Linked DNA regions of Homo sapiens. The protein of the gene in region 1 purifies or fractionates together with the protein of each later gene. This does not show direct contact. Each region holds a gene or a part of one and is shown on either strand. Other genes may lie near its edges.

Region 1 (5,097 bases):
AATAAGACCCTGTCCGAAATAAATAAATAAATAAATAAAGACCCCTATATAGCATGTGTCTACTACATCTGAATTGCCAAGCAGCATAATTTGGGGTCAAAAAAAGATTAAAATAAATTTTTCTTAGTATTTCAGTTTTTAATTCAACAGTTCCATTTTACTCAAACCCACTCTGTTACTATTGGGACACTTTGTTGCAATGAGTCAGCGCCAGCCATTAGTGTGAGGGGAGCTTGCTGAGGGTGAGGGGTTAAGGAGGAGGACAAGGGAAGCACAGTTATTGTCAGTCTTGACATTTGCATGAATTCCTATGCATAAGTTATGCATAAAACCTCAGACAGGCAACACAGAGCCCATCTGTCTACATTTCCTCATGAACATCCATTACATGTGTAAATACCTTTTTTTTTTTTTTTTTTTGAGATAGAATCTTGCTCTGTCACCCAGGCTGGAGTGCAATGGTGCAATCTCGGCTCATTGCAACCTCCGCCTCCCAGGTTCAAGCCATTCTCCTGCCTCAGCCTCCCCAATAGCTGGGATTACAGGCGTGTGCCACCATGGCTGGCTAATTTTTGTATTTTTAGTAGAGGTGGGGTTTCACCATGTTAGTCAGGCTGGTCTCGAACTCCTGACCTCGTGATTCACCCGCCTCAGCCCCCCAAAGTTCTGGGATTACAGCCGTGAGCCACCATGCCCAGCCCACACTTTTTTTTTTTTTTTAATTGAGACGGAGTCTCGCTTGGTCACCCAGGCTGGAGTACAGTGGCCCGATCTCAGCTCACTGCAACCTCCACTTCCTGGGTTCAAGTGATCCCCTCACCTCAGCCTCACAGGTCCCTGGGACTACAGGGACACGCCACCACTCCCAGCTAATTTTTGTATTTTTAGTACACACGGGGTTTTACCATGTTGGCCAGGCTGGTCTCAAACTGGCCTCAAGTCATCTCCCCACCTTGGCCTCCTAAAGTGCTGGGATTAGCAGGCCACTTTGAATATTTAAATAAGCTTCAGAACACACTCAAAAGTGAGTGGAAAGCCAGGACATTGTCCTTTAACAACAATAATAAGATATTCACACATGTGACCAGATGCAGTGGCTCACACCTATAATCTCAGCACTTTGGGAGGCCAAGGCAGGCAAATCACTTGAGGTCAGGAGTTTGAGACCAGCCTAGCCAACATGGCAAAACCTGTCTCTACTAAAAACACAAAAATTAGCTGGGCCTGGTGGTACATGCCTGTAATCACAGCTATTCTACTCGGGAGGTTGATGCAGGAGAATCACTTAAACCCGGGAGGCGGAGACTGCAGTGAGCCAAGATCCCACCACTGCACTCCAGCCTGGGCGACAGAGTGAGACTCTGTCTCAAATAAATAAATAAATATCTTAGTGTGAATATCTGATTATATGTAAGAAGAATGGACTGCACGTGGTGTTTCAAGCCTGTAATCCTAGGACTTTGGGAGGCCGAGGCAGGTGGATCACAAGGTCAGGAGTTTGAGACCAGCCTGGCCAGCATGGTGAAACCCCATCTCTACTAAAAATACAAAAATTAGCTGGGCATCGTGGCATGCGCCTGTAGTCCCAGCTACTCAGGAGGCTGAGGCAGGAGAATTGCTTGAACCCAAGAGGCAGAAGTTTCCGTGAGCCAAGATCACTGCACTCCAGCCTGGGTGACAGCAAGACTCCGTCTCAAAAAAAAAAAAAGAATGGTTGTGGGTTGGTTATTCTACGGTGATGCATTATGGAAAGAAATTGAGAGCAGCTAATCTTTTTTGTAGGACCCGATATTTGTGGATTTGATATCAAGAAAGTTCATGTTATTTTACATTTCAAGAATAAGTATCACGAAAACAAGAAACTGATCAGGTGTAAGGTAACTGCTCTTGTATTCAAATAAATGAGTGTTAACTCCTGCCAGACTAAGTTTAGAAAAAATAGTTTTGATAATAAAATACTTAACTGAGCCAGGGATGGGTCTTTGTAGACATACCTCCTGTTTCCAGTTTCCAGTTTAGGGGGCCCATTGGAGATACTTCTCTCCTTTAACTGGTTTCCTGAAGTTTTTACCCCATCAGGAGGGCACTCTCATTTTTTACTGTGAGCTATGACATGTCATCATTTGCCCTATGAGGGTTACAATAGTACAGTCACATTTCAGCCACATCCATCCTCATTAATGAATGAAATATTCAGGATGAAAAAAACATTCTGGAGAAATGTCTGGGTGCAGTGGCTCACACCTGTAATCCCAGCAGTTTGGGAAGCTGAGGCAGGAGGACTGCTTGAGCCAAGGAGTTCAAGACCAGCCTGGGCAACATGGCGAAATCTTGTCATGACAAAAAATACAAAAATTAGCCAGGTGTAGTGCCAGGAACCTGTGGTCCCAGCTACTGGGGAGGCTGAGGTGGGAGGGTCACTTGAGCCTGGGAGGTCAAGGTTGTAGTGAGCTCTGATTGCACCACTGCACTCCAGCCTGGGTGACAGAGCAAGACCCTGTCTCAAAAAAATAAAAATAAAAATAAACTGCATATTTAGACTTGCATTAAAACATCGAGAGTTGGCCGGGCGTGGTGGCTCATGCCTGTAATCCCAGCACTTTGGGAGGCTGAGGCAGGTGGATCACCTGAGGTCAGGAGTTCGAGACCAGCCTGGTCAACATGGTGAAACTCTGTCTCTACTAGACACAAAAAATTACCCAGGCATGGTGGCAGGTGCCTGTAATCCCAGCTTCTCAGGAGGCTGAGGCAGTAGAATCGCTTGAACTCAGGAGGTGGAGGTTGTAGTGAGCCGAGATTGTGCCACAGCGCTCCAACCTGGGCGACAGAGTGAGACTCCATCTCAAAAAAAAAAAAAAAAAGAAAAGAAAAGAAAAAAGAAATTGAGGATTTAATTGTTACGCTTTTCCCCCTAAAATATGCAGGTTGATGGCTTCACACACCTGTACACTCTAATTTTAAGACCAGATCTTTCTTATGATGTGAAAATTGATGGTCAGTCAATTGAATCCGGCAGCATAGAGTACGACTGGAACTTAACATCACTCAAGAAGGAAACGTCCCCGGCAGAATCGAAGGATTGGGAACAGACTAAAGACAACAAAGCCCAGGTGTGAATTTTTCCTGGGCAACTCTAAAAAGTGCACAAATGTAGTTTGTAAGTACCCAGTTACTGGACAATTGCTGCATGGCTGGTAGCCACGATGGCAATATTATAGAACCAAATGCCCTCCCCAGAGCACACACTGCAGACCAGCCACATCTCTACACATCTGAAGGTATCGTAAAACATTTATTTATTTACTTATTTATTTATTTTTTGAGACAGAGTTTCGTTCTTCTTGCCCAGGCTGGAGTGCAGTGGCGTGATCTCAGCTCACGGCAACCTCCGCCTCCCAGGTTCAAGTGATTCTCCTGCCTCAGCCTCCCGAATACCTGGGATTACAGGCACCCGCCACCATCCCTGGCTAATTTTTGTATTTTTAGTAGAGATGGGGTTTCACCATGTTGGCCAGGCTAGTCTCGAACTCCCGACCTCAAGTGATTTGCCTGCCTTGGCCTCCCAAAGTGCTGGGATTACAGGTGTGAGCCACCACATCTGGCCATCACCATCACTTTTTGCACCATCATTTTTCACTCTAGCCACTACTTGAGGTTTCCACACCGCTGCTCCTCTCCATAGCATGCAGGAAAGGGCTAAAGTCATATGGCAGGTTAGGGAGAAAAATCTAGGCAGTGTGGTGTTGCCCTGAAGTCCTCAGTGGGATTGGAAGCACCAAGCACTTGGCCTCCTGACCACCAAACTGAAGAAGGGAGAGGGACACTGGGACAGGGGTCACCAGCCTGTGCCTGCCACTTGGCATCTAATAATTTCCTTTCTCAAATCTGAGCATCTGGCTGGGTGTGGTGGCTAATGCCTGTAATACCAGCACTTCCAGAGGTCAAGGCAGGAGGATCGCTTGAACCCAGGAGTTCGAGACCAGCCTGGGCAACAGAGGGAGACCCTGACTGTACAAAACATAAAAATAGTAGCCAGGTATGATGGCGGGCGCCTGTAGTCCGAGCTACTTGGGAGGCTGAGGCAGGAGGATCACTGGAGCCCAAGAGGTTGAGGCTGCAGTGAGCCATGATTGCACAACCGCACTCCAGCCTGGGTGAGAGCAAAACCTAGTCTCAAGAAACAAAAACAGAAGCAACAACAACAAATATATGAGCATCTGACTGATTTTACTTTTTCCTTACATGTCTTTGAAGGACTGGGAGAAGCATTTTCTGGACGCCAGCACCAGCAAGCAGAGCGACTGGAACGGTGACCTGGATGGGGACTGGCCAGCGCCGATGCTCCAGAAGCCCCCGTACCAGGTGTGTGGCCTCTTTGTATGATGCCAGGGATGCCCCAGGGCTGCCCCTCCGCTGCCCATGTCATTGAGACCACCCCATATGGTTTTTTTGATACAGGATGGCCTGAAACCAGAAGGTATTCATAAAGACGTCTGGCTCCACCGTAAGATGAAGAATACCGACTATTTGACGCAGTATGACCTCTCAGAATTTGAGAACATTGGTGCCATTGGCCTGGAGCTTTGGCAGGTCATTTGGTTTTAACTTTACTTTAGATTTTTTGCGTGTGTGTGTTTTGTTTTGTTTTGTTTTGTTTTGTTGAGACAGGGTCTCATTCTGTCACCTAGGCTGGAGTGCAGTGGCACCATCCTAGCTCACTGTAGCCTCAAACTAGGCCCAAGCGATCCTCCCACCTCAGCCTCCCAAGTAGCTAGGACTACAGGCACAAGCCACCACATCCAGATTTTTTTTTTTTAAGAAATGGGAGTCTAGGCTGTGCGCGGTGGCTCACTCCTGTAATCCCAGCACTTTGGGAGGCTGAGGCGGGTGGATCACAAGGTCAGGAGATCGAGACCATCCTGGCTAACATGGTGAAACCCCGTCTCTACTAAAAATACAAAAAAAATTAGCCGGGCGTGGTGGCGGGCGCCTGTAGTCCCAGCTACTCGGGACGCTGAGGCAGGAGAATGGCGTGAACCCGGGAGGCAGAGCTTGCAGTGAGCTGAGATCGGGCCACTGCACTCCAGTCTGGGTGAC
Region 2 (5,097 bases), on another chromosome or scaffold:
TTTTGAGAATGAAATATGATAGCCTTTGTTAGATGACCTTAGGACTGCCTTCATCTTTGTTTGGAATACGATGAAGTAAGACAGAATAGAAAAAAAACATGGGCCAAAAGCTGAGTTCTGATCTTGTCCGAGCCATTCAGGAGGTTTAGAGAATACTGTGGGACATTTACCTTTTTCCTTTGAGTCTTAATTTTATCTTTGTCTCTTTCTATCCGTCATCCATTGACCATCCAACTATCCATCCATACATGCAAAATAATTATGGTGGAGAGTGAAAATATTAAATAGTGTTTATTCAGAAACTAGTACAGTTTCTGAAATATGGTAAGTACTCAATATATAAATATTAGTTTATCCTCCACTATTCCCAACCCATCTGCTAAACACCAGAAGGAGGAAAGTATAAAATTCAAGGCAAGACACTTCATTTCAACTAATTATTCTTGAGATATTATAAATGTTATATGTTATTAGTAAATATATTTGCTTCCAGATCTATGTTTCATATTCCCTTAATAAAAAAGTAGCTCATAGCAGCATTTTTTATAATAGCCAAAAACTGGAAACAACCCAAATGGCCATGAAGTGATAAATAGATAAATGAAATGTAATATGTGCATACAATGGGCTGCAATTCATTAACAGGGGAATTAAGTATTGAAACGTGCTCAAACATGGATGCACCTTGAAAACATTATGCTAAATGAAAGAAATCTATCACAAAAAAACACATTTTGTATGATTCCATTTATATGAAATGTCCAGGATAGACAAATACATAAAGACCTAGTGGTTTCCAGGGACTGACGGGGAGGAGGGATTGGGGGTGACTGCTAATAAGTACAGGCTTCCTTTTGGAGGTGATGAAAATCTTCTAAAATTGATTGTGTTGGTTGCACAGCTCCTTAAATATACTAAGAACCATTGAACTGTTTACTTTAAATAGGTGAATTACATGGTATGTAAACTATCTTCATAAAACTGCTCTAAAGAGGATTTTGTAAGTATAGTATGCTCAAAATAATGCACTGTCTTAAGGATTTCTGGTACATATCCTTTGTTGCCAATGAAGGTAATTAGTAACAACTATTTAATCGATCCAAAATTAAGTGAGGGGAAAATAGTGTTATAAAATGCTGTCATTTCCTCTTCTCAATGATTACTCAAAATCTTCAGTTAAGCGAAAAGAGAAAATGGCTTGTACAAAATTAGGCCCACTTAGTTAACACTGAGTCATGTTGATTGATGTAATTTTGTTGTTTTAGGTCCTAAACCTAGTGCAGTCCTATGTGACCCTTCGAGTCCCTCTGTATGTTTCCTACGTGTTCCATTCCCCCGTGGGGGTAGGAGGCTGGCAGCATTTTGACTTGAAGTCAGAGCTTCGTCTAACTTTTGTGTACGACACCGCCATCTTGTGGAATGATGGAATTGGCAGCCCCCCAGAGGCTGAACTTCAAGGTGAGTTCAGAAGACTTGGAAAATTCTATAGTTTTGTAACCTATTTAAACTATTTAAGACGATTTTTTTTTGCCATTGCTAAAAGTAGTACTAGCAAATTTCAGTATATTTTCATTTTCTATCTATAATAAGATAATTTCACCTTTTTCATCAAAAAACTCTTTAAACCATATTAGGGCTTTAAATTTTGTGCAATATGTGATTATTAAATATGACTTTATATATTTCATGGATATTTTATCCTTGCGATCTATTTTAGGTGATTAATTATTTATGTGTTACATAACACAACATATATATTTTTCTGAATTCTAGAAAATGGATAGAGGAAGCTCCAACGAAAGCAAGAAATGACCAAGGGAAAAAGTTACACATTTTTATTTCTGAAAAAAAGAGGTGCATTTAAATTAAATACAAATTATGGCCTGAATTCTAGTCATGACTCTACAACTAACTAGCTGTGAGATCTCAAGCATATTGCTTAACCTTTCTGGGACTTAACTTTTTCTGAATGATAGACACAACTTCTAATATCTCTTTCTGATGTAAAATTCTATTACTCTGGGGTACTTTAGTTGAATGTCTGCGAACTCGGATTGTGAATGCCACTAGTTCGAGTTCGCGAGCATTTGCAAAACTTGGTTTCAATCTCCATGTTAGACTCATAGTTCAAAGTCCACAAGCATCAATCTAATCCATTAGTAGGACGAGTGCTTTTTCTTTTTCAGACATGTATTACTGTTCCGATTCCACAAACATCCATAGTGTCATGCCAGTACTGCATTTTACTAGCCAGCAGGAAAACAGAGTTAATAGTGCACCTCAAATGTAAATCTACTCTCTTAAGTGGATTAAAACCTATTTATGCTCTGTTCATTTTGTTGTTGTCTTTTTTTCTCCATGTTTCATTTTGAATAGTTTCTATTTTAGAGCTATGTGACAGGTAATATGATAACCCTGAGTTATGATTCCAAATTATTTCAAATGTTTTAAGTCCGTGTCTTGTTTTAGAAGATGTATATTTAAGTTAATCTTAATGAGGATTTTTCTGTGGTTCCCAACCTCCACATAGGATCTCTTGTTTCCATCTGATTTCTGGAGCCAAATTTTATCAAACTGCTAAATTTCTTGGGAAAGCTTCAGAGGTTTCTTTAAGTCTATAAAATTAGGAATAATTCTGGATAACTCAAACCTATTTCTATTTACATGTCCGAATCTCCATCATTTTGACAATTTTGTCATGCCTCTCAATTTACAGCTTCATTTTTATAAACTCAGATTTTAAAAAAACTTGGTCTATTGTAAGTAATCTGTGTATTTCATAGTGACTTCACTCATGTTACTTAATAATTCATTTTGGCTCCCTTTTCTGCTTAGAAAAGAAAATGAAGATACTTCTGCCTCTGTTATTCAGAATTCTTCTGATAATACCCTTTGCCCAGAATGTTTAAAGACAAGTCAAACCTGAATTAATTTTTGGAAGGAATCTGTACATAAGGGGTCTCTGGCTACATATATTTTCATTCTTGGTACTCTCCCCATTATAGGTTCTCTCTATCCAACCAGCATGCGCATCGGTGATGAGGGGCGCTTGGCCGTGCACTTCAAGACAGAGGCTCAGTTCCATGGCTTATTTGTGCTGTCACATCCCGGTAAGCCCCGTTATCTTTTAACAACCACTCCTCACACAAAAAGGAGGTAGATTTTCCATCTTCACACATTTCAGCGTGCTTCTCTGTTACCACTGAAGCCCTTAATCTCAAATGAATTGTACATGTGGGATTATCTCCATGAGAGCTTGATAATTGTTCAGCTTCACCTCATAATCCACAAAATTATCATTATGCAGACTTTCAGAGAAAATGCAAAATAATTAGAGTAAAATTAAAAGGAAACCCTATTGAGTTCATTTTAAGTAAAGTTTTCCTTAAAGAGCATAGGAATAATCATTTCTTTCTCTGCTTTGCTTCCATTGTACAAATCGAATTGCAGATGATTCATTCAGCAAGCACTTCTCTTTTCACAGCTTTTTGCTAGGTACTGTGAGAAACCCTTTTAATAGGGTCAGAGGAGGTACTTCACTTTCATATTTAAGTTTTGGACATGTTAATTATGTTTAATAAGTATTGGCTATGCAATTTTACTAACTGTGATTCGCTGTGCTTTGAATATCAACAAGGCAGCAGTCGATAAAATCCCACGTCTAACTTCATTTGTTTTTTGTTTTTTTTTAACAAGGACATTTCACTAGAAAGAGCTTATTTTTTATTTGACTCTCCATATTACCAGTTTAGTAACATGGAGAGTCAAATAAAAAATAAGCCATTTTTCTGCCAGCTTATATTAGATTGGGAAAGGGAAAATAGTTCACTCAACATCTTTATAGCTTTTCTTTTTCTGGACTTGAACTCTAACAAAAGAGAATAGGGCTGAATAATTAGGAAGAGAAAGAGGCTTCATTGTATTTTTATGGAACTGAGCTACAAGAAAGAAAGAACCCAAAAAAATCATTTTGCTTTATTGTATTTGACAGTTCTGGAAAATGAGGATTTTCTGGTCTATACAGTTTTCTTCTACATGCCTACCTTTCTAATAAACTGAATCTTTGTGTAGCCATGATTGCAGGCAATCTAACTAAAATCAGACTCCATTCATAAATTGGGTTTGCCCAGCTGTGTGGATACTAATAGACTATTTTAAGTTCAGCTCGTAACTTCAGTGCACAATAAATGCATTCACATCACCCTTTATTGTGCTGCTGTGACTCCCCAGAAAGTAGCTCTGAACAATTTGAGCATTTCTGTACAATTATCTTTTGACAAAACTATAGAGCAGAAACAGTACTGAAGTAGGAATCAGAAAGTCACATCCTAGCTGTGTGATCTTTGGAAAGTCACACAGTCACTCACAGCCCAGTTTCTTCATCTGCCAGAGGAGGATAATTATACTAACCATGACTGCTTTGCAGCCTTCTTATAAAAACAGAAGCAAATAATGTATGATCATTTATTTTGAAAACTCTAAACTGTTATGCACTCTTTTAATTGAACCACTATATCATTATTATAATTACTGGCACTTTCCTAGCATCCTTTACAAGCTCAGTGATCATGTCAGCTGATCATCCAGGCCTGACATTTTCCCTCCGCCTCATAAGGAGTGAACCAACCTATAACCAGCCAGTACAGCAGTGGAGCTTTGTCTCTGACTTTGCCGTAAGTGACTAAGACTCTTAATTAATTTTCTTCTGCTGCTGCCATCTGATTACACCTCAGATTTTTAAATGTAATATATCAATATCTTCTCCTCAAAGGTACGTGACTACTCAGGGACCTATACTGTGAAGCTGGTGCCATGCACTGCCCCATCACATCAGGAATACCGCCTGCCAGTCACCTGCAACCCCAGAGAACCTGTCACCTTTGACCTTGACATCCGATTCCAACAGGTGTGGCTTATAGAATTACTATCTTATGACTTGCAGAATCCCACTTTGTTTTTCATTTATTAGTAAAAAAAAAAAAAATCCACACGTGAATGACTTTAATTCTTGCATGCTGAAAAGAAAAGAAATCAGACAGTTAAGGAAGCTAGGGATAAAAGAATGAGGAGAGATTTGCCCTTTATCTGTTGTTAGTA
Region 3 (5,097 bases), on another chromosome or scaffold:
AAGGGACACACCAGACCTCAGCTTGCCAGAGCTCACTTTGACATCTGGAAGAAATCACCCTGTTGCCCTGAGCCTTAGCTTCCTTCTCTTGATTTCTCTCCTCCCAATTTTTCTCCTTTCCTCAGTGGCTGGCATAAGAAGGGGCACCTTTGTGGAGGTTGGGTACAGGCCCAGAACCTTTGCTTTTTTATTTGTTTAAACAGATGTGTGTGAGTGAGAGAGTCAGACAGACACCAGGATGAGAATTAACCTGTACTTGGTATAAGAGGAAGGTGGCACCTTTAATCTGATGATGCATAGCAAGAGAACTTGCCAGCAAAGAAAAAAGAAACTTAGAATATGTTCTGGCTGCGTAGATGTAATAATAATTACTGTCTTTTGCATGATCTGATGATCATTATCATTTGCAGCCCCCAGATTATAATGAATCACATTAAATTATAACAAAATAAGGCTGGGCGTGGTGGCTTACGCCTGTAATCCCAGCACTTTGGGAGACCAAGGTGGCAAGGTGGGTAGATCACTTGAGGTCAGGAGTTCGAGACCAGCCTGGCCAACGTGGCAAAATCCTGTCTCTACTAAGAAGTACAAACATTAGCCAGGCATGGTGGCGCATGCCTATAATCCCAGCTACTTGGGAACCTGAGGCAGGAGAATCGCTTGAACCCGGGAGGCGGAGGTTTCAGTGAGCCGAGATGGCACCACTGCACTCCACCCTGGGCAACAGAGCAAAACTCCATCCCAAAATAAATATATATATATATATATATATATATATATATATATATATATATATATATATATATAACAAAATAACCTTATTGTCCTTTTGTTCCTTATTCTATCCCTAAAATCAGTCTATGACTATCTTTATAGATGTTGCCCCGACATTGCAAACTTTGCAGACTGGCCGGGGCCAGGCCCAAGGGTGGTAACATTTGTATCCCATCCAGGCTGCAGATTTCCCCTGTCCTCCCCACCCAAGTCGTCCATTGTTGCCGAATGCATCGGCCATTGAATGTGTAGGGCTGTCTGGTTTCAGTGTGGTTAACTTTGGGAAATTATTGGACAGAACCACTGGGGAAGGTGACAGAAGGCTAGGTAGAACAGCAGAATTCATAAACATTCAGGGTGGACTACCGGGAAAGCTGATGGGCATTTTCTCTGCGTCTGCCATTCTTTTCCATTTCTCACCACAGGGAAGAGAAGCCGAGGGAGCTCTGGTGGAGGTTGCCAGGGAGAAGTACCAGACACGCCCTGAAATGGACAGCTTTTGTTAGGGTGGAAAGACAGGCTGCCAGGAAATGGGGCTCCAAGCAGGGCCTGGGGACTGGAAGCCCCTGGGAACTTGGAATGCCAGTCCAGTCTTTGTTTCCTAGAACAAGGGAAGGAAAAGATGAAGACTCACAACTCTTAAGGACTCCTAGGATGTTCTTTACCATATCTTGGGGCTTGAGATTTCAAAATTGTTTTCATTATTTTCATAACTTTTGCCCTAAACAAAGTAAGATCTTTTTAAAAAATATTGACTGATATACATAATTTAGCATTTTAATAAAGTGATTTATTTTTTGTAGAAAAACTTATTTATTCTGATCTCTTGGTAACAAGGCCAGAGGGAGCCCAGGTGACCAGATCACATGCTCTGGGCCAGCCATCACCTGTCCCAAGGGGCTGACATACCTAAGGGACAGGCCCAAGTCCTGAGGAGGCAGATGTTACCTCACCCCTGAGGGCAGAATAGAGCTTTCAAAGCAAAGGTTACTTCCAGGAAATGCATAAAAAGAATGGCAGCCTGTGTCCTTCCTCACATGAGTTCACTCACGTGGCATTTATTGAACATCCACTATGCCGGAGGCTCCACACAGGGCACTTTTTATCTTCCCAGCCACCCTGTGACGGATGTGGGATCATCCCTGTTTTGTGGGTCAGGAGGCAGAGGCTCAGAGAGAGCTGGCCCTGCCCAAGGACTCACTGTGAGTGTGGCAGAATTAGAATTCAGACCCAGGTCACTGTGAGAAACACAGTGGACTATCAGACCTCTTGCCTCAAAGGCAGCTTCTGGCCTAGGACTGGAGCGGAGGAGACAGAAGAACACTGAGGTCTTCTGGACACGAGGTCTGCTGTGCATGACTCGTGGGGAGTGTTTGTGCCAAGCTCTTTGCTAAAGAGGAACCTGCGGGGCCCTGAGCAGGGAGGAGGGAAGCAGGGTCTCCGTGTGGGAGCTGCTGGAGCTGGTCTTGCACAGCAGGCACCCTGTTCTTCCATTTGTGGTGCTTTGAAGGGAGTTGATAGAGCCTATGGGGGCAGCTAAATCCCTCCCAAGTCAGCCCTCAGCCCACTGCCATGGTTCTAGCTGAGAACTAATTACTAACCAGGGAAGAACCAATTAAACTAAATGGCTGGTTCCCACCTACTCTGGGGTAACCCTTTCCTGGCCACATCCTCCCTTCTGGCTTGGAGATACCAGGGCCCTGAAGACCCTGATTCTATTCCCGGTCTGTCACTGGCTGGCTGTATGTTGGATAAGCCCCAGCCCATCTCTGGCTTTCTCCGTGTATCCCCTCAAGGCTACTGGGCTGGGTGACCCCTTGGGCCAGTGGAGCTCTAACTCTGGTTCTGCAATTCAGTGCCAGCTCTGAGTATGAGGCCAAGCCAATAACACTCCCAGCCTGGAGACAAGCATGCTGCTGGTGAGAGGGGCTGCAGGAGTGAGATGGGGGATCAGGGGCTCTGCGACTGTTGCCCCCAGAACTGTCCTGGGTCCCACATGCAGGATCTTCTCCAGCCTACCACCTCCTCTCCTGGGAGGCATTCCTGGCCCCCTACACCTGAGTGCAACCCTCCCTGGGGGCACAATGTGGGGGAGGGGCATGCTGGCTCCCTTCTTCTGAAGATGTGCTTGGCTCTGGTTGCCAAGCAACAAGGATGGGGCTATCCTGCACTTCTGCTTCCAGGAGGTGTGTCTTCCACACAGAGAGGAACCATGATTAGGACGACAGGGCAGGTGACACCTCCCAGGTGCTCCTAGCCCAGGGGCACCCCTTTCCACAGCCTGGTGGGAGGGGTAAGCTGGGAGGGCAGGGAAAGGACAGAGCCAAGAGGGGTATATGGTGTCCCCAGCAGACCTAGGAGGGCTTAGAGACCCGGCCCCAGCCCCAGCTCCCACCCCCACCCCATCACCATATTGGTCCTCCTGCATCCTGGGCTTCCACCTCAGCCCACCCCTCTGCTGAATGGATGGTGTTGGTGTGCAATGGCACCACCTGTGCTCATTTTCCTCACCTGTGCAGGAAGTTGATCATTACCTTGTTGGGGTTCCAGGAAGATCAAGTACATCTATACATGGCATGTGATTAAGGCTCACATGATAAAAGCTCAGGTGATAGGTAATTTTGTTAATGAAATAGTAACAGCAATCTCCATCTCCTCCCTCATTGCAGAAGTAGGGTGCGAGATTTTGAGAATCATTGATCATTTCTGTATTGTGAACTGTGGGGTCTACATCCTCGTGATCTGGCAGGAAGAGCTGCTCATCCCATTTTATAAAGAAAGCGAAGGTCTGCCAGGTGAAGGCTTTTACACAGATGGAAGGACCCTTTGACTCCCTGGCCAGTGTTTTCCCCAGCTCCCCATCCCTGCTCAGAGACAGGCTGGCAAAAAGTGGGACAGACTCACCATGCCTGCTCCTCTGGGGCCACCAAACCTGCTCAGGGGAAGAGTACCTCATCTTCACAGCTCCGTTACTTCCTGTAAGGAGCTCAGCCAGGGTGGAGTATAAGGGCAGAGGCTTTGCAGCATTGGGGTTATATGCCTTCAGATGTGTGAGGTCGGTAGTACTTGGCCCACAATAAGCAGGCAACAAATCTCAGCCAGTATTAAGATTAGTATTACATACACAAGCAAGGCTATGGGCGTGATGTGCTTGGAGGAGTCAGGGAAGGCTTTCTGGAGGAGGTTTTGCATAGTGAGCAGGAACTCACCAGCAAAGAAGGGGAGGCACTGAGGGCAGAGGGCCTGACCATGCCCAGGCAGTGAAAGGCTTGGGGTTTCTGGGGAATCGGGTGTGGTTCAGGGTGGTGGGATTCTGGTGCGGGTGGAGAAATAGTGGGGGAGAAGGGGTTGAGCCTGGGGGAGTCAGTAGGGTCAGGCCCTGGAGGACCTCCCTGCAGGCAGTGGGGATCCACTGGGGAGTTTTGACCCAGAGGGACATGCTCATGGATTAGAAGGTGAAGGCAGAATGTGTTCTGATTGGAGGCAGGAGATCCAGGTGGCTGAACTAGGTCAGAACAGAAACGTTCCGAGGATGGAATTTATAGAGAGGGCTTGTAAACTTAAGCTTCCTTCCAGTTCTGAAGCTCAGCTCCACTGCAGATGTATATTTTCTTGATTCTTTCTCTTAGAATGAGGCCTCAGGAACAATGAAGGATTGTAGGGGAGGGACTATTGTCTCTCTCTGCAAGGCCACACTGTACGCAGATGGACCAAAGCTAGCCCCTTTAAGCTCCCCTGTCCATCCTATCTCCACAGTGCCCTGGGTTCCCTGACTGCTCTGGCCTTCCATGGGTGTTCTGCGGGACTGCTGGCAGCCCTTCCGGACTCCTCCCTCTCTGCTACCTGCTCAGGTTGGATGTGGCATATGACCAGAAACTGGCCATTGGGTGTGTGAGCTCCCCTATCCTCTGGTCATTGGATGTGTGAGTCCCCCATCCTCTGGTCATTGGGTGTGTAAGTCCTCTGTCCTCTGGTCACTGGGTATGTGAGTTCCCGTCCTCTGATCATTAGTGTGTGAGCAGCCCATCCTCTGGCCATTGGATGTGTGAGTCCCCCGTCCTCTGGTCATTGGGTGTGTGAGTCCCCCGTCCTCTGGTCATTAGGTGTGTGAGTCCCCTATACTCTGGTCATTGGGTATGTGAGCCCTCCCTCCTCTGGTCATTGGGTGTGTGAGTTCCCGTCCTCTAATCATTAGTGTGCGAGCAGCCCATCCTCTGGCTGTTGGATGTGTGAGCCCCTTGTCCTCTGATCATTGGTGTGTGAGCAGCCCATCCTCTAGCCATTGGATGTGTGAGTTCCCCATCCTCTGGTCATTGGGTGTGT
Region 4 (5,097 bases), on another chromosome or scaffold:
AGTCAACAAGGTGAGAGATGATAAGAGACTGTACTAAGATGGTAAATGGAGCCAGGCACAGTGGCTCATACCTGTAATCCCAGCACTTTGGGAGGCCAAGGCAGGAGAATTGCTTGAGGCCAGGAGTTCAAGACCAGCCTAAACAATATAGTAAGAACTCATCCATACAAAAACTAAAATTAGCCAAGTGTAGTGGTGTGCACATGTAGTCCCAACTACTCAGGAAGCTGAGTTGGAGGATCGCTTGAGCCTAGGTGTTCTAGGTTGCAGTGAGCTGTAATTGTGCCACTGCATTCCAGCCTGGGCAACAGAGCAAGACCCTGTCTCAAAAAAAAAAAAAGAAAAGAAAAAGAAGATACAAGGCACAAAGACCACCCCCCACCTCAAAAAAAAAATAGATGGTACATGGGAATTAACATTTAGGGAAGCAGTTAACTTCTGAACCTCCAAAAGACTTTCCTGTTCAGATCAATCCTGTGCCTTGGTTTCCGTATTCTTCTTTAAGCCACTCTTAAATTCCACTTTTACTTTTGATAATGATCATGGATTCTGCCCCTTTTTGTTGGTGGAGTGGGTGGGTTGGGGGTTAGAATCTTCCCTTAGAATCTTTTATTATTTTATACTAAGCAGGAATTGTACAGATGACCTAAGTCTTCTTGTATTGCATTTTTATTTTTAAACAGGAAATTAGAAATATCTTCTGGAAAGCTGGCCAGATTTGCAGATGGCTCTGCTGTAGTACAGGTAAAAAGTCCAGATTTTTAAAATTCATCTTAAAAATGGTTACGGAGACTCATACTAAATGTGTAACTACAACATCGTGTAACTACTTAGAATTTTGGTACTGGAAATTAATTCAGATACTACTAAGATAATTTCTACTGCAAGAATCATTCCAGACAACCAGAGTCCAGAGCACTGCATGTATTAAGTGACCTATTTTTTTTTTTGAGGTGGACTCTTGCTCCATCTCCAGGCCGGAGTGCAGTGGTGCGATTTTGGCACACTGCAACCTCTGCCTCCTGGGTTCAAGCGATTCTTTTGCCTCAGCCTCCCGAGTAGCTGGGACTACAGGCGTGCACCACCACACCCAGCTAATTTTTGTATTTTTAGTAGAGACGGGGTTTCACCATGTTGGCCAGGATGGTCTCGATCTCTTTTTTTTTTTTTTTTTTGAGATGGAGTCTCACTCTGTTGCCCAGGCTGGAGTGCAGCGGCGCGATCTCGGTTCACTGCAACCTCCGCCTCCCAGGTTCACGCCATTCTCCTGCCTCAGCCTCCTTAGTAGCTGGGACCACAGGCACCTGCCACCACGCCCAGCTAATTTTTTGTATTTTTAGTAGAGTCGAGGTTTCACCGTGTTAGCCAGGATGGTGTTGATCTCCTGACCTCGTGATCCGCCTGCCTCAGCCTCCCAAAGTGCTGGGATTACAGACGTGAGCCACCGCGCCTGGCCTGGTCTCAATCTCTTGACCTCGTGATCCACCTGCCTTGCCCCCGCAAAGTGCTGCAATTACAAGTGTGAGCGACCGTGCCCAGCCGTATTAAGTGACGTTTAACATCCTTTCCAAACTTGGGCTTCTGTTTTATGCGTTAATAAATTCTGTTGTGCTTTTCTAGAGAAAGTGATTTTGGTATTTTCTTCTATAGTAATAATTGGGGAATTTTTCCTTATGTATAGCCACATAAGAAGTAGAGAATACTATTCAATTCATTGAATATGACTAAATTACCTGTTAATCTTTCCTTATTTTGATTCCATAGCTTTTGAAAAGCTCAGAGATCAAGATTGGACTACTTGTGAATATTTTTTATTTCATAATCGTGTCGTAGAATTAGATATCTTTTCTTGAGTTTAATTGGAGTAAGGATTTATTCAGTTGCTACTTAGATGCTAATATCTGATTTCAAAGGAACTTACCAGCGTTGTTCTTTATGTTTAAGTCAGGTGACACTGCAGTAATGGTCACAGCGGTCAGTAAAACAAAACCTTCCCCTTCCCAGTTTATGCCTTTGGTGGTAAGTATTTGCTGATTTATCTGAACTGTAATATGGTCTGAGTAAAGTGTAGAATGTATAATATTTTTGTCCAGTGTCTAGTGAGTGGAAAATACAAACTTGCACAACAAAGAATTTTTCCTAGTTTTTTGATACTGATTCATTAAAAGAGTATAAACTGCTTCATAAACAAATACTAGGATTAAGCATACTTTAGAATTTGGAACGTCCAGGTGCGTAAGTTGACAAGAAGATTGGAAGTGCATGAGTACTTTGACATTGAATAAGCAATGAATTCATTGCCCTCATAGTTTCCCTTCAGTATGACTCTGCAAGTACAGTCAGCCCTCCATGTCCTTGGGTTTTGCATCCATGGATTCAACCAACCATGGATCGAAAATATTGGGGGAAAAATTGCATCTGTACTGAATATGTACAGACTTTTTTTCTTGTCATTCCCTACGCAATACGGTATAAAAACTATTTATGTAGAATTTACATTGTATTAAGGATTATATGTAATCTAGAGATGATTTAAAGTATATGAGAGGATATACGTAAGTTATAAACAAATACTATGGTGTTTTACATCAAGGATTTGAGCATCCATGGATTTTGATATCTGCAAGAGGTCCTAGAACCAATCCCCCAGGGATACCAAGAGACAACTGTGTATATTTAGTAATGAGCTCATGAGAATTTTATAGCTCCCTTCTATTATGAAAAGGGGTGTACAATTATATTTAACAGAGTTGATACCAAAAAAAAGCAATGTTTGACTTGATCAGAATGAGCATCTGTGGCAAATAGTGAGTCTTCTTCCACTTTTACTGTTGAGTAGAAGACTTTTTTTTTTTTAAGAGACAGGGTCTTGCTCTGTCACCCAGGCTAGAGTTGTTCAGTGGTGTGATCATAGTTCACTGCAGCCTCAAACTCCTGGGCTTAAGCAATCCTCCCACCTCAGCCTTCTGAGTAGCTAGGACTATGGGCACAGGCCATTGTGCCCAACTAATTTTTTTTTTGTTGGGGGTAGAGACAAGGTCTTTCTGTGTTACCCAGGCAGTTCTAAAACCCTGGCCTCAAGTGGTCCTCCTGCTTTGGCCTCCCAAAGTGCTGGGATTACAGGCGTGAGCCACTGCACCTGAACGTTTTTTAAAATCACTTTGCAGAAACATTTCTATCAACTTTCCTCTCCCCAAAAGATACAAAATGCTAAGTAAATAACATTTTCTACTCTGAGTCTAGACTGTGTTGTTAGCAACCTCAGGAGAATTAGCATTCATACAGTATAGTTTGTTTCTGCAAAAAGAATTATATGAACTTTTTTTTATTGCTGCTTCAGGTTGACTACAGACAAAAAGCTGCTGCAGCAGGTAGAATTCCCACAAACTATCTGAGAAGAGAGATTGGTACTTCTGATAAAGAAATTCTAACAAGTCGAATAATAGGTAAGATATTAACATAGAGGCGTTCATCTTCTCTGGTATGCCTATGTTAGCATCTCTTCTCTTGCATCTGTGTTCTACAATAAGTCTTAAGTTTTCCTTCATAGCATTAACACCACCTAAGATTATTCACTCCTTCTCTTCCCTCACTCAAATGTGGGCACTGTGAAAGAAAAAACTTTTATTTCTTCAGGGTTGAATCCCTAGTACCTGTTATACTGCTTAGCACAGAATAGGCATTCAATAAATATTTGTTGACTAAATGAGTAAATCTCTATTGAGCATATGAATTTTTTGGCCCATGCCTCTACTTTGTTGAATCTATTCCTAGTACATTTTTTCATGTTCAGAATAGTAATTCCTAAACATTATGTTCATCAGCTACTGAAATATGTCCATAATCTTTCAAATCTTTAACATCCCTACATATTGTGGGATCATATGTAATTTATAGCTCTTCTACCCAGAAATTGCTTTTTTTTGAGACAGAGTCTTGCTCTGTCACCCAGGCTGGAGTGCAGTGGCACGATCTCGGCTCACTGCAACCTCTACCTCCCGGGTTCAAGTGATTGGGATTACAGGTGCCCACCACCATGCCTGGCTGATTTTTGTATTTTTAGTCAAGATGGGGTTTCTCCATTTTGGTCAGGCTGGTCTTGAACTCCTGACCTCGTGATCCACCCGCCTCAGCCTCCCAAGTGCTGGGATTGCAGGCGTGAACCACTGTGCTCGGCCAGAAATTGCTATTTTATGTATATTTATATACAGTCTTCAGACACAAAGTAGCAAGGAAGCATTTTCTTTTGGTCTGCTATTGGTCTTAAGTCTCTTTGCTCTGCTTATATATGTAACTGTTGCCTGTGGAACCAGAATGAAAAATTGCTCCCCAATCTTTATTGTTAATGTGCTTCTTCTGTGTTTGTTTTTTGTTGTTAGGGCATGGTATGTAATAATGGAAGCACTGACATTTATCTGTGTCCCTCTTAGTAAATCAGTCCAAGGGGATTTTTCTTGAAAACATATTGAATGGCTATCTATATTAGTTCAAACGTTTTGAACTGTAAAGCAACTCTGTCAGTACGGTTTAATGTGTTTTTTTTTCTTTTGGCAGATCGTTCAATTAGACCGCTCTTTCCAGCTGGCTACTTCTATGATACACAGGTAGATTCTGCTTTAGGTTTTTTAGTTGCCAGATCAATCAAAAATTACTTAATGAATCTCTGTAATATTTCCTAGAGTAAACATTATAAAGAACATAAGAATTTTTTATGATACTGTTATATTTTACATTACGTTTTTGAAAAAAGATAGTACTTTTTTTTTTTTTTTTTTTGAGACAGAGTCTCACTTTGTCGCCCAGGCTGGAGTGCAATGGCACGATCTCAGCTCACTGCAACCTCAATCTCCCAGGTTCAAGTGATTCTCCTGCCTCAGCCTCCTGAGTAGCTGGGATTACAGGCACGCACCACCATGCCCGACTAATTTTTGTATTTTTAATAGAGACCAGTTTTCACCATGTTGGTCAGGCTGGTCTTGAACTCCTGACCTTGTGATCCGCCCCCCTCGGCCTCCCAAAGTGCTAGGATTACAGGCGTGAGCCACTGTGCCTGGCCAAAAGATAGTGCTTTTAAAAAGCTAACATTTATTCAGTGTC

What was found.
Region 2: the proteins of CALR3 (region 1) and FREM2 purify together in Homo sapiens (affinity purification with mass spectrometry, with the first as the bait; one large-scale study listed by BioGRID). This does not show direct contact.
Region 3: the proteins of CALR3 (region 1) and RAB6B purify together in Homo sapiens (affinity purification with mass spectrometry; one large-scale study listed by BioGRID and IntAct). This does not show direct contact.
Region 4: the proteins of CALR3 (region 1) and PNPT1 purify together in Homo sapiens (affinity purification with mass spectrometry; one large-scale study listed by BioGRID and IntAct). This does not show direct contact.

What each region holds. Positions count from the first base shown.
Region 1 is NC_000019.10:16,481,943-16,487,039, reverse strand, and holds part of CALR3 (calreticulin-3 precursor), read left to right. Parts: intron 1-1,782; coding exon 1,783-1,877; intron 1,878-2,924; coding exon 2,925-3,110; intron 3,111-4,254; coding exon 4,255-4,362; intron 4,363-4,458; coding exon 4,459-4,590; intron 4,591-5,097. UniProt on the Homo sapiens protein: During spermatogenesis, may act as a lectin-independent chaperone for specific client proteins such as ADAM3. Required for sperm fertility. CALR3 capacity for calcium-binding may be absent or much lower than that of CALR.
Region 2 is NC_000013.11:38,871,477-38,876,573, forward strand, and holds part of FREM2 (FRAS1-related extracellular matrix protein 2 precursor), read left to right. Parts: intron 1-1,265; coding exon 1,266-1,458; intron 1,459-3,005; coding exon 3,006-3,110; intron 3,111-4,545; coding exon 4,546-4,673; intron 4,674-4,771; coding exon 4,772-4,906; intron 4,907-5,097. UniProt on the Homo sapiens protein: Extracellular matrix protein required for maintenance of the integrity of the skin epithelium and for maintenance of renal epithelia. Required for epidermal adhesion. Involved in the development of eyelids and the anterior segment of the eyeballs.
Region 3 is NC_000003.12:133,885,099-133,890,195, reverse strand, and holds part of RAB6B (ras-related protein Rab-6B), read left to right. Parts: intron 1-4,530; exon of another isoform or gene 4,531-4,630; coding exon of another isoform or gene 4,631-4,661; intron 4,662-5,097. UniProt on the Homo sapiens protein: The small GTPases Rab are key regulators of intracellular membrane trafficking, from the formation of transport vesicles to their fusion with membranes. Rabs cycle between active GTP-bound and inactive GDP-bound states.
Region 4 is NC_000002.12:55,683,292-55,688,388, reverse strand, and holds part of PNPT1 (polyribonucleotide nucleotidyltransferase 1, mitochondrial precursor), read left to right. Parts: intron 1-683; coding exon 684-744; intron 745-1,944; coding exon 1,945-2,019; intron 2,020-3,340; coding exon 3,341-3,446; intron 3,447-4,554; coding exon 4,555-4,604; intron 4,605-5,097. UniProt on the Homo sapiens protein: RNA-binding protein implicated in numerous RNA metabolic processes. Catalyzes the phosphorolysis of single-stranded polyribonucleotides processively in the 3'-to-5' direction. Mitochondrial intermembrane factor with RNA-processing exoribonulease activity.